Linked DNA regions of Homo sapiens: region 2 is linked to region 1. A link means that fine-mapping ties the variant in region 1 to the plasma level of a protein whose gene starts in the linked region. Region 1 holds a variant in brackets. A gene starts in the other region. All regions are shown on their forward strands.

What was found. PIP is the posterior inclusion probability: the model's chance that the variant is causal. Protein levels are from antibody-based Olink assays in UK Biobank. Linkage for the fine-mapping came from a reference panel and not from the study's own genotypes, which makes the PIPs less certain.
Region 2: OPTC starts here. The variant in region 1 is fine-mapped to the plasma level of the OPTC protein (UK Biobank, PIP above 0.99).

What each region holds. Positions count from the first base shown.
Region 1 is chr8:134,247,280-134,255,613 of GRCh38, forward strand. No RefSeq gene overlaps it. Among named protein-coding and RNA genes, the nearest start is that of ZFAT, 460 kb to the right of the region's middle. The variant CAGTACTATATAGAT/C (reference allele first, on the strand shown) is at 3,422.
Region 2 is chr1:203,490,502-203,498,803 of GRCh38, forward strand. It overlaps OPTC (opticin), which reads left to right and starts at 3,652. Exons shown (of 8, transcript NM_014359.4): 1 at 3,652-3,716; 2 at 5,464-5,735; 3 at 6,476-6,614; 4 at 8,180-8,302. The coding sequence starts at 5,505. It overlaps PRELP (proline and arginine rich end leucine rich repeat protein), which reads left to right. Exons shown (of 3, transcript NM_002725.4): 3 at 1-851. RefSeq lists an enhancer at 959-1,757 and a silencer at 3,145-3,373.

The DNA of each region.
Region 1 (8,334 bases):
TACAATGAAAACTGTAAAACAATGATTCAAGCAATTGAAGAGGACACCAAAAAAAGGGAAATATATTCCATGTTCATGTACTGTAAGACTCAATATTATTAAAATGTCCATACTACTCAAAGTGATCTATACATCCAATGCAATCTCTATCAAAATAATAGCAACATTCTTTACAGAATAGAAAACAAAATCCTAAAACTTACATGGAACCAGAAAAGAACCAGAATAGCTAAAGTCATGCTGAGCAAAAAGAACAGAACTGGAAGAATCACATTATCTGATTTCAAATTAAACTAGAACTATAGTAATCAAAAAGGCATGGTACTGGCATAAAAACAGCCATATAGACCAATGGAACAGAATAGACAATCCACAGATAAATTCATACATCTACAGTGAACTCATTTTTGACAAAAGTGCCAAGAATATCCACTGAGAAAAAGACAGTCTCTTCAATAAATAGTGTGTGAAAACTGGCTCTCCATATGTAGAATAATGAAACTAGACCCCTATCCCTCTATCTCTCTCCATATACAAAAATCAAATCAAAATGGATTGAAGATTTAAATTTAAAACCTCAAACTATGAAACTACTAAAAGAAAATATTGGGGAAACTCTCCAGGACATTGTTATGGGCAAAGATTTCTTGAATAATACCCTAAAAGTACAAGCAACCAAAGCAAAGATGGACAAATGGGATCATATCAAGTTAAAAAGCTTCTACAGGGTAAACAAAATGCTCAACAAAGTCAAGAGACAACCTACAGAATGGGGGAAAATATTTGTAAATTATCCATTCCAACAAAAGATTAATAGCCAGAATATGTAAGGAGCTAAAATAATCAGAAAATATATAATCATCTTATTACAAAATGGGCAAAATATCTAAATAGACACTTCTCAAAAGAACACATACAAATGGCAAACAGGATTATGAAAAGATGCTCAACATTATTGATTATCAGAAAAATACAAATCAGAACTACAATAAGGTATCATTTCATCCCATCAGTTAAAATGGCTTTTGTCCTAAAGACAAGCAATAATGAATGCTGGCAAGGATATGGAAAAAAGGCAACACTCATATACTGTTGGTGGGAATGTAAATTAGTATTAAATACAAACATTATGGAGAACAGTATGGAGGGTCCTTTAAAAACTGGAAGTAGAACTACCACAGGATTCAGCACTCCCACTGCTAGGTATGTACCCAAAAGAAAGTAAATCCATTTATTGAAGATAAATCTGCACTACCATTTTTACTGGGGCACTATTCACAATAGCCAAGATTCGAAGCAACCTAAGTGTTCGTTAAGAGATGAATGGATAAAGAAAACATGGCACATATTCACAATGGCGTACTATTCAGCCATAAAAAAGAATGAGATCCTGTCATTTGCAACAACCTGGATGAGACTGGAGGACATTAAATTAAGTGAAATAAGCGAGGCACTGAAAGAAAAACTTTGTATGCTTTCCCTCATTTGTGGGAGCTAAAAAGGTAAATAATTGAACTCATGGAGGTAAAGAGTAGAAGGATGGCTACCAGAGGCTGGGAAGGGTAGTGAGGAAGAAGTGGGGGAAGTGGACATGATTAATGGGTACAGGGATACAGTTAGATAGAATGAATAAGACCTAGTATTTCATAGCACAACAGGGTGACTACAGTTGGCAATAATTTATCATACATTTTAAAATAACTAAAAGTATAATTGGAATGTTTACACAAGGAAATGATAAATGCTTGGGGTGATGAATACACCATATGATTATTATACATTGTATACCTGTATCAAAATATCTCACATACCTCATAAATATACACATCTACTATGTACGCATAAAAGTTAAATTTTTTTAATTACTACAACCACCCTCTTTCTCCCACTCCTCAGCCACAGGTTTTTACATACTTTCCATTAGGAAAGTACCACTCCCATAATAATCACCAGGAGTGGATCGAGGTTTATCCTATCTCTCAGGTATATTGGGACAGGGAAGCAAAAACTGAGGACCTCTGAATTACAGGAGTGTTATGAGAGGATGAAGCATGCCTCCATTACAGCTCGACACTTACTGAGAGCCAATCATGCCCTAAGTGCTACTTTCTAGCACCCAGAGTTCAAAGTCTACAAGATAAATTTGGTCCTAATTGAGATCAGAGTTGACTAGAGCAAAGGAACCTGTAAGTGGAAAGGACAGAAAGTGAGGGAGCAAAACAAAAAACACAAAAGTGGGCATGTGGGGACTATCTGTGTGAGTATACTTGTTTTATCTAATTGGGCTGGGTGGGGTATAGTTGGAAAATTGCCCAGACTAAATGCATCTTAAAATATTGGAAATCCTTCCCCAGCCCTCTCCTCTTTCTGACCCTGTTGCTGCTGCCCCTGCTGAATTTGTCATTCCTAGTACTTGCAGATAACACAGGCACTGGTCATTCCATGGGCTATGGTCTGAATGGCTCCCACAGTTTAAGTGTTGGTGGTACTAAGTTTAACTGTGGTGGTACTAAGAGGTGGGACCTTTTGGGAAGTGATAAAGTGATGAAGACTCTGCTTCAGTGAATGGATGCGTGTCTTTTAAAAGGGTAGACAGGAACTAGCCTAGGCCCTTTTTGTTCTCATGCTCTTCTACCATATGAGGACATATTATTTGTCCCGTCTTGTCCTTTCCATCCCTTTGGCCACATCAGGACACCTAGACAGTGCCACCTATGAGGAAAGAGACCTAACCTGATGCCAAACCTGCCTTGATTTTGGACTTCCCGGCCTCCAGGTCTGTGAGAAATAAATATCTATTGTTCATAAATTACCTAGGCTGTGGTACTTTGTTGTAGGAGTACAAACAAAACTATGACAATATGTCACTGTAAATAACCAAAAGATAAGGTAAAAGTTGATTATTTTCCAATACAACACACATGACACAAGATTACCCTGAAAAAATTGTGTCATAACAATAAATAATATAATTTATTGAGTCCTTACTATGTTCTAGGTATTATACAGAGGATTTTTTTTTTTGAAATGGAGTCTCACTCTGTTGCCCAGTCTGGAGTGCAGTGGTACAATCTCAGCTCACTGCAACCTCCACCTCCTGGGTTTGAGCGATTCTCCTGCCTCAGCCTCCCGAGTAGCTGGGACTACAGGTGCCCACCACCACTCCAGGGTAATTTTTTTTATTTTTAGTAGAGACGGGGTTTCACCGTGTTATCCAGGATGGTCTCCATCTCCTGACCTCATGATCTGCCCACCTCACCTCCCAAAGTGCTGGGCTTACAGGCATGAACCACCGCACCCAGCCTATACAAAGCATTTTACGGTCATTAATACATCTAATTCTCACAACAATACTGTGAAGAGGTATTACCCCTACCTAATGAGCAAGAAACTAAAGCTCAAAAAGACTAAGCAAAATTCT[CAGTACTATATAGAT/C]AGTAAACAGGAGAGCCAGGAATCCAACTCAGTCTGTAATTGTGGTTTGATGGGTCCAAATAGAACACCCGCCGAGTTCCAATCAACTGACATATGGTGATATGAAATCAGACAGACGGAAATTCTAATGCCAGCTTCATGACCAGTGAAAATAAATTAGGAAACAGGACATGGCTAAGCTGGGCAACCAAACAAGCTTATAATGTTCCTGGGAATTAAGGTGGCCCTTCCTCCAAAATGCAGGTCCCTGTGGCCCAGTGTACTTTACAAAGAGCCCAGATTAGAATGCTTTCCATTTGCAGGTTCACCCCAAAAAGAGAGGAGGCCACAAGTCAGGGCCCCTCAAACCCAGTGTGTCCATTGGGCACAAGGGGCCAGGAGTACTGTGTTAGGAAGTCTTTTAAAGCAAAACGAAGGAGCAAGAAACAAACAATCCACCCTAACATTTCTTTGACCTTGGCCCTCTTAGTTCATTGGGGTTTGATTTTTAATCTAACCCAAAACAGGAGTGAGGCTATGCTTTTCAGGGGAGGACCTCACATTCAATACCAACCGCTCTTCCAGTGTCACCCTGAAACTGTGGATGGGTAATTTAGATTTTGCCTGTAAAAGTTTCTAAAATTATCTGAATAATCAATTCATTACATGAACTTCAGAAACCTCTACATACAAGCTGAAAATGTACTACTAGTTCTTTTTCCCACCTCCAGTTATGTTGAGACAAATTGTCTAATACTACTCATGGGAGATTCTGTGATAAGTTTTAAGAATGACAGAAAGATACCTTGATAACTTGAAGTCAATTACATGGAAATGCCCTGAAGTTGAATAAAAACCAGCCTCATTATTGTATTTGCAGAAAGAAATTAAACTCCAGAGATTCAAGTCCTTTTGCAAGATAAAATATGAAGCATTTGTTGTGTAAAGGAAGTAAAGGCCCAAATAAATTCTCTTGCCTTTGTCAGCTAAAAGTCTGTGGCCTATGGCAGAGCTTTTCACTAAGATTCAAGGTCCTGGCTAGGCACGGTGACTCATGCCTATAATCCCAGCACTTTGGGAGGCCAAGTCAGGTGGATCATTTGAGGTCAGGAGTTCAAGACCAGCCTGGTCAACATGATGGAACTCTGTAGCTACTAAAAATACAAAAATTAGCCAGGCGTGGTAGCACATGCTTGTAATCCCAGCTGCTGGGGAGGCTGAGGCAGGAGAATTGCTTGAATCCGGGAGGTGGAGGTTGCAGTGAGCTGAGATTGCACCATTGCACTCCAGCCTGGGTGAAGAAGTGAGACTCCATCACAAAACAGACAAAAATAAAGATTCAAGGTCCTCTTTCATGATATAGAATTGTTATTTGGAATTGGCTGCCAATCCCACATTGCAGACTCCCTTTCATCTAAGTGTGGCCAAATAGTTGAGTTCTGCCAATGAGATGGGGGCAGAAGTGGTATGTTCCCCCAGGTCCAGACCAGGTTCATAAAAGCCTGGATATGTTCCTCCATTCTCTCTCATTTGTCCCCTCCACCTGATGAATATCTACAACAAGAATAACCCTACAGATCACGCAACCATGTTACCAAAGTCTTCATCAGAATGAGTTTTCATAGGACTGCATAGGGCAAACACTCTATCACCACAAAAGACAGAATTTTATGTCAAAAGTCCAGGGTTTGCTTGTTATGGCAACTAGCATTAACGTAATCAACAGAAAGTCTTAAAAAGTCAAAAATTCAACATCCCTAATTTTGGTTTTATTATGCTCAACCTCAGCCTAGACTTTCATTCAGAGGTATAGCTGAGGTAGAGATAAGACTGAGGTTCCTTCAGGAGTCCCGTCTGGGCTGTTCGTTTAGACATCCATTTATTTAGGACTACAACAAAAAATGTTCTTTTGAGCTTCATGATTTTAAGAGTCTAAACTGTTAACAGAATGCATAAGATTATCACAGCCCTGGGCCCACACTCATGACATTGGAAAAGTAAATCCTCAGTTCCTAGGGCAATTTTACCAAGCAAAATGATGTTCCCAGAACGTAAGAATGGATAGCCACCAAAAATGAAACTGAGAGAAGGGGAGGGTAGGGGAAAGTGATCTTTCTCAACATCATCATGACCAAGTCACTGCTCATTCTAACGATGATTGTCCAGGGCTCGTGACTTGTGAGACTAAACACGGCACTCTCTACCAGATGGAGTGTCATAAAACCATGTTACGACACTGGTTTGCCATATTGAGTAGGGAAATCCACCCATGCATGCTTTTTCATTTTCCAGAGAGTAGCATTTGAGAGTTGCCAAATTAGCACAGTTTCAAATGTTACGATGGTGACACTCTCAGTCATCAGTTCTTACTCAAGATGTTTTTAATTTCCATCCTGCATCTTCCAACATCTCAATTTCCATTTCCCTCTGAGTCTTAAGGGTCTGGCACCCCTACTTTTAAATTTAACAAGCATTCCAACTTATTGGAATAAGCCCCACAGTCTCCTGGGAGCATGTCTCTGCTCCTGTGTCCCAGTGGTTGTCTACTCTGCTTCCTAGTTGGAATTGCTTACATTCAAGATATCAATTTCATAGGGTATTTTTTTCCTCTAGTTTCCACATTTTTTCTCACTGGGGAATCATCTTTAATGGGTTACTGAACAGCAACCATTATTGATGTTTCTGAGGCACATGTCCTAGGGAAAGAGGGAGGACAAATACCTCTGCAACGTGCCCTTAAGATGCTGCCTCAGGTTTTTAAAGTTCCTTTCTTGGACAACCTTTCTTTCTTCCATCTCTCCTTTTATTTCTTGTCTATTTGGACATACTACCACTCATTCATTTCCATCTGTTGTTCACCTACTTAGACTCAGCTGAGTTTTTAAGAGTTTAACCTGCCTCATATGTGGTTCCCTTTCTCTCTCTAACACACCTAAGCTAGCTCATTTACCAGAATGAAGTGCCTTTCTTTGTTTTGTTTCCCCTTCGCTTTTGGATAGTATAATATACAGACTTCTAGAGCTTTTCTCAACAAAAACGACACTAATCTTCATCCTCTCCTCATTTTGCTTTGAACCCATCTTTCCAGAGGGCACAGGCAGCAACAAGGGAGAGACATTGCCCCACCATTCACTGATGAACCTGCGGTGGTTCCCACACTGGCAAAGTTTCATTAAGCACTTCAGCACACTGGTACAACTGCTGCCAACAGTTAGGCTTCAGCACACGTCTCTGCAGCATCCAGGAGCTGACACCACCCAGCCTGAAGCTCTCACCACCACTGAAATCCTCCAAGGAAGTGCCATGCATTGCCAGCAGCTGCTTTCATGACTTGCAGACATGTAGGCTGGATTTGTTAGCTCCTTATCAACTTGCAAATGACTTTGACAAATTTTCTTGTTTGTTTTTTTTCTTTTGAGGAAATGTTTGGATTGCTATTGCAGTCTTGTTTATAAGGCAATTAAAGCAGGAAGCAATTATCATCAATTATCATGTAAGACTAGCTACTGTCTTGTAATTACTGTGTTAATTGGCATTAAGTTTAGGTAGAAATTATTGTTGCCCACTTCCAACTAAAAAGTAAAGAATGTCATGTCAGGAGTGAAGAAAGCACATCTAAAATATAGTTTTCCCTTTAAAGAAATTTTATCTAGAGAGCACGTTTCTTAATGTTTGTATATTTCTCATTGCTTAAGTCATTCATTCAAAAGTTGATGATGATGATGATGATGATGATGATGATGATGATGATGATGTGATAGACAGCTTCTAAGATGGCTTCCAATAATCCATGCTTCCTAGCTTTCATGCCCTTGTATAGAAGTGACTCATATAGCCAATAGGATATAAACAAAAGGATGGCATGTGACTTCCAAAGTTAGGGCATGAAAGTTATTTTAGGGACCATCATGCTCTCCTGGATTGCTCAGTCTATAAAAAGCTGTCAAGAGAACCAATATGTCAAAAGACCCTCAACTCTGTGGAGAGATCAACATGGCATTGAACTGAGGCCACACACCAACCAGCCCATACCAACTTTCTGCCATGCCAGTGAACCACTGTAGAAATGGATCCTGCAGCCCTAGTCAAGTCTTTCAAAGACTGTAACCCCAGCTCACGATGTAGCTCAATCTCTTGAAAGACTCTAAGCCATATCTACCTAGCTAAGTACTTTCCAAATGACTGTCTCATAGAAATTGTAAGTAATAATGAACATTTGTTGTTTTAAGCCACTAAATTCTGAGGTAGATTATTATCCAACAGTAGATAATTGATACAGATGGTGATTATTATTGTTAATGACTATGGTGGTGATTCCACCTCTCATCCCCTAGGAAGAGAAAATGTACAATCAGACATGGGATTTGCCCTTTAAGAAAATGACAGCCTTAATAAAAGATAAACCACAAGGTAACTCACTTAGCACTAAAATAAGATTACTTATTTAGATTCTGGTTTTATAGTTGCATTGTGGTTTTTGATTTGTTTTGTTTTGTTTTTTGAGACAGGTTCTCACTCTCTTTCCCAGACTGAAGGGCAGTGGTACAACTGCGGCTCACTGTAGCCTCAATCTTCCAGGCCCAAGCCATCCTCCTGACTCAGCCTCCTGAGTAGCTAGGCCAAAGGTGCATGCCACCATGCCTGGCTAATTTTTTTAATTTTTTTTTTTTTTTTTTTTTTTTAGATTCAGTGTCTCACTATGGTGCCCAGTCTGGTCTCGAACTCCTGGGCTCAATCTTCCCACCTCAGCCTCCCAAAGTGTTGGTATTACAGGCGTGAGCCACCATGCCTGGCCTATAGTTGCATTCTCTTAATAATGAAGTAGAGTAAGGACCTAGATATTTTGACAGCAGGACCTAAAAAAAAATAACTTATTTTCTAACTGAAGAGGAAGAAGCAAAGTTCTTGGAAAGAAGAATT
Region 2 (8,302 bases), not on the chromosome of region 1:
AACGGTCGTCTTTCCTGCCCAAGTAAAGCTTACAGACTAACTGGGGAGATGTAGTGTGCATACAAAACAGTAAAAGAGCCATCTCAAGGACAGAGAGCATAGACCAAGTCATCTGGAATGGTCTACATGCCATGCGGAAGTCCACCGAAGGGTTAGAACAGGGTGTCCCAGACTCTCTCTTCTGAGGGAAGGTTGGTTGCAAAAGTGGGATTCATGACCCTCCCAGGCTACACCATCTTCTTTAGAATGAGAACTGCCAGGTGACGCCCTCGCTGCTCCTACCTGGCTACTAAACATCGACTTCGGTTCACTTCACGGATGTTCAGTGGATATCGGTCACATGCCAGGTCCCCAGCTACGCATTCAAGGATGGATAATATACATAGCAGCACATCCTTGAGGAACTCATACCTTGGTAAAGGGAAAGAAATCCATGAATGGATACCTCTGTGTCCTAAGTGTTTGTAATAATGCTGTGTGTCAGGCCTCTGAGCCCAAGCTAAGCCATCATATCCCCTGTGACCTGCATGTGCACATCCAGACGGCTGGTTCCTACCTTAACTGATGATATTCCACCACAAAAGAAGTGAAAATGGCTGGTCCCTGCCTTAACTGATGACATTACCTTGTGAAATTCCTTCTCCTGGCTCATCCTGGCTCAAAAGCTCCCCCACTGAACACCTTGCAACCCCCACCCCTGGCCACCAGAGAACAACCCCCTTTGACTGTAATTTTCCATTACCTACCCACATCTTATAAAATGGCCCCATCCCTATCTCCCTTCGCTGACTCTTTTCGGACTCAGCCCGCCTGCACCCAGGTGAAATAAACAGCCTTGTTGCTCACACAAAGCCTGTTTGGTGGTCGCTTCACACAGACACGAGTGAAACTACTGTGTATGAACAGTATAAAGGAAAGGGCTTTTACCTCTACCTGAGGAAAACCAGAAAGACTCCTACCATGTGAGCTGGCTCTTAAGGGATAAATCAGATTTTGCCAGGTGGATGAAAGAAAAAAAGACGCCACCTGGACAGGAAACAGCATGAGTACAAAGGTAGGAAGGTGTGGAGTCTACCCTGTGGGGCTTGTGTGTCTGAAAAAGAGGAGAGGGTCATGTTCCGGTCATGGAGTGGAGTTATGTGGCTACAAGCCCTCAGCAGGGGATATACCCCTGTCATCCAAAACACAGGAGGGTTCCTGAACTTCCCCGCCTCTCTCTCCCTATCCATGAAAAGGGCAACAACAGGGTTGGCTGGTCAAACTTCTGTCCATACCACCTGCCGCCTCCGATTCATCAACACGCCTTTTGCCTCTCCTAATGAGAGATTAGGATTAGGACGCCTCCCCCGCCTCCTGCTTCCTTTGCCAGGCTCTTGGGGAGCTGGGCTGCCTGGAACAGCAGTCTGCGGGGTTAGCCGTTTCCCCCACCAGGTCACATGTACACATCCATGGACAGCCCCTAATATTCATGAGAACAAGAGTGTGTGACCTGTGAGCTTGGGAAAGCAAGAGGAGAAGTTGGGAGAGGGTCTAGGATGCGAGCCTGAGTCTGGATGTGGCTCCTGCAGGGAGTGGGGGGAGCAGGTGTGTATGCATTGGGGAGGAACGATGGTGGGGGTGTGGCAACCAAGCAGGGATGGCAGGAGCGTATGTCTCTGGGAAAGCAGGGAGGGAGAGTGGGAGCAGGCGGCAGGGAGAGTGAATGAACACTCGCATTTGCATTTCTCCCAGGAATAAATGTGTGGGGTGGGAGCGGGGAGATTGCCTAGGCTGGCTGTGGGGGTGGAGGGCCTCTGGCTGCAAAGCCCAGGCTGTGGAGAGAAGATGGAGGCATACAGCCCGCCAAATGTGCCATCTGCCTACTGGATGCCCTCCAGGATCCAGGGCTATCTTTCCCTCCACCCAGCAGAGCCTCTGATGGTGTCTTTTCCCAGGTGGGGGGCTGCCAGGGGTACAAGAACATGCTCTTCTCTGGTGACCAGGCTCTTGGGCTGAGGGAAGCCCCCTCTTGCACCAGCTGGAGCCCAGGAACACAGCAAGCCAAATGCTGCCCTCGAGGGCCAGGCTATTAGATCTGCCTCTTCACCTGGTGTGCCAGGGCAGAGATGAGTTCTGCCAAGCCATCTGCTCTGAGGGCCTGGAAACACACGGATTCAGGACTCCTGGGGAAGAAGGTGGAAATGGGGAGGGTCATATGAACTAAAGAAAACTCTCTGACCAGGGAGTCAAAAAATCTAGGCATTGGCCCTGGCTCTGTGTGACCTAGGGCAAGTCACGTCACCTCTTTGGGCCTCACTCTCCTCATCTATACCACAAGGACTTGGACTAGATCTTTAGGGGGCCTCACAGCTGGAATTCAGTATCTGGTTGGTGGAAAGGAGTAGGGAACAAGGAGAGTCACTGAGAAACCTGGGTGGGCGCCAGGGCACAGGCTGGCAGAAGCTGGGGAAGACTCCTTAGCCACCCCACCTCTGCCTTCAGCAAGGACTTGCTCGGCAGCCTGCTCGAGGCACCAAGGAAAGGGGAGTGTTTCCAGATGAATGCCGTTGGCCCTCTGTATCTGTGGGTTCCACATCCGTGGATTCAACCAACCACAGATTGAAAATATTCAGAAAAAAAAAAAATTCACAACGTTCCAAAAAGGAAAACTTGAATTTGCTGTGTGCCAGTACTATGTGGAATCCATGTGAATGGAGTGAGGTGTAAGCATTGTGTTTGGTGTTATAGGTAATCTAGAGATGATTTGAAGTACACAGGAGGATGTGCGTAGGTTATGTGCAAATTCACCATTTTATATAAAAGACCTCAGCATATGTGGATTTGGTATCCACTGGACGTGCAGAACCAATCCCCCATGGTTACTGAGGGACGACTGTACATCTCTGAGGGTGCGGGAGAGGATACTTCCCAGGCCCCCGAGACCCTACACAATGTCTACTGGTGTTTATGATCCTTTCTAGGGCCCACCTCCCAATTTCCATTTGGTTTCCTCCTAGCAGATTTAGAGAATTTCCCGTATCCTCATGATCATCATCTGTGAACTTGAAGTTGGCTTTCAAATCCGATCTCATCCCCCATACACCTTCTCTTTGAACTACCTAGGCCTGCAGCTCCTGTCTCTGGTGATTTTATTCAATTATGGTCTCTGTGCTGGCGCTCTAGGTGAGGGTGAAGTGCCTCATTTCCACCTATTTTTATCTTTGGATTCTGGCTATGAAGCTGAAGCCTTGTCACTCTCTGGCTGGAGAAAGAAGCTGCAAAGACAAGCTCTATCTCTCCATATCCCCCGACTCCAGCCTTCTCTGAGGACTCAGAATCTGAGGGATGGGGCCCCTTCCTTGCAGGGGATGGCACTCCCTGTTCCTCAAAGATGTGGCCTTATCAGGAGAGTGGACAAGGAAAAGAAAGAAGGAGCTGACAGAGTAAGAGGAGAGAGAGCAGGAGCTGGAGGTGGGGGGTGAAGCGGAAGGTGGGGGGAGAATTCTCTTTTGTCAAATACAGGAATGGGGCAGGGGACCCCCTGAGGAAAGAGGAGGGGAAACAGCTGGACATCAGAAGGAATGAGAAGTCTGATTGGTCGCAGGCCTGGCCAACTCCTTGCCCTCCCCCGGGCACCACTGTCTAACCCAAGCCCCAGTTCAGACAGCCTCCACCAGAGTCCCCACCTTTCTGGAAGCTGCAGGGCTCTCCATCCAGGATCCAGAAGCATTGAAGGGGTAAGGCTCAAGGTTGAGGCCTCTGGCCATCGGTGCGCAAATGAGGGCAAAGTGTTTGGCTGGGGCAGGGGATTGGGAAGGGAAAATGAAGAGAGTTTAGGCCTCTGGCCAAAGAAGTTGGACAAGACTTTTGGGTGGGCACTAAACTCTCTTAGAAAAATTTTTTTTGAGATTATGTAATTCGTTTGGGGTGAGGTATGGGAGGTAAGGTGAAGAAACACCTCTTGCTACTGCTAGAGGCTTGCCCCCTTGCCCAGCTAAAATTAAGAAAGGGTGGGGAGGTTAACTGGGCATGGTAACACACGCCTGTAGTCCCAGCTACTTGGGAGGCTGAGGCAGGAGGACTGCCTGAGCCCAGGAGGTTAAGGCTTCAGTGAGCTGAGATCATGCCATAACACTCCAGGCTGGGCAACAGAGTGACACCGTCTTAAAAATAGAAAATAAAATAAAAATTAAAAGATAAAAAAAATTTTAAAAGAAAGAAAGAGGGAGAGTCTACTAGAAACTTGTGCAGCTAGCTTTGGGGAGGGCTGTGTTAAGCCTACACTGGGTATGACTGTTGTATACACTTATGCCTGGATACAAAACCACACCACATGCATTTCCTGACCCGTCTATACATATACGAACTACATGAACATTTGTACTCACATGCATATCACATACATACGCAGGCATCTGTGTGCACACACACACAAATATACACAGGTATCTAAGGAAATTTCCAGATGCGTACACACTCATGCAATCACACACAAAGAACTCTTTTATCTGTAATAATCTGTTTCTAAAAAGCTGCATTTAGAAGTATATTTCATAAACTAACATTCTTTTTTACATTGTATGTTTCATTGTAAGTCCATGTCTCCTAAAGAGACTAGGTGCTCCTAGGAAGGGCTGTGCCTCATTCATTCTGTACCCACAGAGACAAGTCCTGTGCCTGGAACTCAATAGACACCCATAAATGTTTGTTGAGCAAATGCATGAATGGATGATCTTTATAAAAAACCACAAGAGTCAACTGGGCGCGGTGGCTCACACCTGTAATTCCAGCACTTTGGGAAGCCAGGGTGGGTGGATCACCTAAGGTCAGGAGTTCGACACCAGCCTGGCCAATATGGTGAAACCCCTTCTCTACTAAAAATACAAAAATTAGCCAGGCATGGTGGGTGCCTGTAATCCCAGCTACTCAGGAGGCTGAGGCAGGAGATTCGCTTGAACCCAGAAGGCGGAGGTTGCAGTGAGCCAAGATCGCACCACTGCACTCCAGCCCGGGAAACAAGAATGAAACTTCGTCTCAAAAAAACAAACAAACAAAAAGACCCCATAAGATTATTTGATGTTGACATTCTCTAAATCGAGCTTAGTGACTAGCAGTCATGTTCTGAGCATGGGGTTGTTTAAGAGAGGACATCTGTGTGCATGCACCAGTGTGTGCCTCGTTTGTAAACAAGGGGACTCTTGTGAATGTGTCTGTGTTGAGATGTGTCTGCACATGCCTCTGTGAGTGAATATCAGTGTTTGGGTGAGCGTGTAAAAACACTCAAGTGGGGCGGTGGAGGGAGGGGGCTGCTAGGAGATACCCCCCAAGACATAGTCCCAGCTGGTAGGGAATTTGTGCATGTGATGAGAGCACTGAGTCTGCAAGTGTGGGGGTGGGAAGTGGAGTAAATCTGCGAGCCATTCCCACAACACTCTGGAGAGCCTGTCCCTCAGATCGCTGCCCTTCCTCGTGCCCACTTGCCAGGACCAGCCGCTGAAGGGATTCTCAGTCCCATCTGACTCCCCATGAGGCTCCTGGCTTTCCTGAGTCTGCTGGCCTTGGTGCTGCAGGAGACAGGGACAGCTTCTCTCCCAAGGAAGGAGAGGAAGAGGAGAGAGGAGCAGATGCCCAGGGAAGGCGATTCCTTTGAAGTTCTGCCTCTGCGGAATGATGTCCTGAACCCAGACAACTATGGTGAAGTCATTGACCTGAGCAACTATGAGGAGCTCACAGATTATGGGGACCAACTCCCCGAGGTGAGGGACACAGCAGACCAACTACATTCCCTGCATGACACTGGGAGTCAGAGGCCAGGGCCCTCCCATCTGCCCCAAAGTGCGGGTGTCTCCAGCCTCCACCTCTTTCTCTGTGAGGTGGAAATTCTTATCCCTCCATAGGGACTTGTCACTTAGATGATACTAAGAAACAGGACACAAACCTGGGACTTCTCCTTCTTCAAAACTCATACTTGCCTCCCCCTGCCAAAGCTATGTCTCACTGGGGGAGGGGTTCGCAATGTCCTCATCATATTCTCTAGGAAATAAAAGTGCCACATCCCCCATCTCTTTTCTGAAACTGTCCTCCAGTCTGAAGTTCTTTCCCAGGTCCTCTTGGCCTTCACTGCAGCAGCGTGGGGTGCAAGCCCAGAAGCCCCTACTCAATTGTGCGTGAGCCTGGTCGGTGTGGAGCAGGGGAAGAGTGCCGGCCTGGGAAATCGGGAGAGCAGGTTTCGTCTCTGCCTTGACCACCTGCTGGCTCTTTGATCCTCATCCCTCTCCTCTCTGGGCCCCAGTTTCTTCATCCATAGGATGGACATGCTGGACCTGATGCTCTGTCAGGTCCCCTTTTTGCACAGTCTTTCTGCTATCCTTCCCTCCTCCTCCTCCACAGTGACTCTTTGCTGGTTTGAAATCCATCACTGAGGTTCCCAGAGTCCAAAGTTAAGTCCCTTTTGTGCAAAAGCTGGGCTACTGTGTACTCTGTGCTACATCTCCAGGTTAAGGTGACTAGCCTCGCTCCTGCAACCAGCATCAGTCCCGCCAAGAGCACTACGGCTCCAGGGACACCCTCGTCAAACCCCACGATGACCAGACCTACTACAGCAGGGCTGCTACTGAGTTCCCAGCCCAACCATGGTAAGTGCACAGTCACATGGTCGCAATATCCCTAGGTCATAGGCCAAGCAGCTATGACCCAGCACCAGGGGGTACCAAAGTGGAACGTGGTTGGGGTTGGGGCATGGAGGGTCAGGGCTACCCTTACTAGCAGGGAGAGAAGGGGAAATAGCCACAGTAAGAACAGGAAAAAAGAAATCAAAGACTGGCACTGGCTGTCCCTAATACTTTTGCCTGAATGTACAAGTTGAGTAAGAAGCAAAGAAATGCAAGAACTCCCTTATGCCCTAGCAAAGCCACCCTGCCTTAATTAATAGCATGACGGGGGAAGCAGGTTGAGTGGTAATTAGATTACAGACAATTAAAAGCCTGTAGAGAAGAATAACTAACTTTGTGGCTGTCACTTGGCATGGGAGCAAATGAAGCAGTCACACTGCTTTTCAGCTTCAAAGTCCCTCCTCAGCAGCTCTCTTTCCTTCCCTGATGCCCTCCTGGAGGCTGCGGCTGGCATCCCTGGCAGTGAGGCCTCAGCAATCTGCTGGAAATCAGAAGTGGGCAGAGGAGGGGTGAAGTTCATTCTGGACCTGCTTGCCCGCGGTTTCCCTGTTCTCTTCTCGGGATGTTTGCCTTGGGTGGACCTGGGGTATTGGGGCATTGGCAGGAAAACCATTCAGTCAGGAATCCATGACCTCTCAGAGCTACAGTCTCAGGCTTAAAGAGGCCATAAAGGGCCTCAGCTGAATCCACCATTCAAAGCCTCAGGATAAGAAAGATGCTGGGGCCCCTCTGCTCTACCCACTCCTCCTGGTCACTGCTGGCAGAGAAGAGCTCCTTAATCTGGGGGCTGTGTCACTGCTACCAGAGTTATTCCTTGAGTTGAGCTAAACTGGTCTCTCAGTAATCTCTGTGCCTTGTGATAGCAAGTGACAGAAACCACCTGCGCTATTCAGTTGTATGATCCAATAAAGTCTCCCCAACTACTTGGGGTGGCTGACCTGGCCTAACCTCATTACCCGTGGGTACAGAGACAGGGTCATGGACAGAACAGGAGAGGGCTGCTTCCCAAAGAAAAATTGGCATGCTGATGCCATAAGAAGGGGAAGTGGTTGCTGGGTAGGCACTGTACTCCACCTTGGTTCTATTGTGCTTCTTGGAGCCACACAGAACATGTCTAATTTCTCTTCCCCAAGGCAGATGGCAGAGCCAGCAACCACTGGCCATCCCACTTAATTCTGGCTTTACTTTTTGGGACCAGAGAGGAATCCTGTGGAAAAGAGACCAAGGGATTTCCTAGAAACACCCACATAGGCCCAGGAAAATGTACACAGAACCAGGGTCTGCTGAAAGTATAAATGGGCTTGGGCTGGGTAGTAACTGAGGATGGACCTGCCTCTCTGGGGTAGAGGACAGAGTGACAGGGGAGCAGACAACAGCACCGTGTACATGGTGCCCGTCAGTTCTGGGCAGCAACCCATAGGCTATCAAAAAGGCACAGATGGCCATGGTTCAGACACTCCCTGGGGCGAGGGCCATTGGCCCCAGAGGCTAAAGAGATCTCCCTTTGTTCTGTCTTCCACCTGGGCCAGGTCTGCCCACCTGCCTGGTCTGCGTGTGCCTCGGTTCCTCTGTGTATTGCGATGACATTGACCTAGAGGACATTCCTCCTCTTCCTCGGAGGACTGCCTACCTGTATGCACGCTTCAACCGCA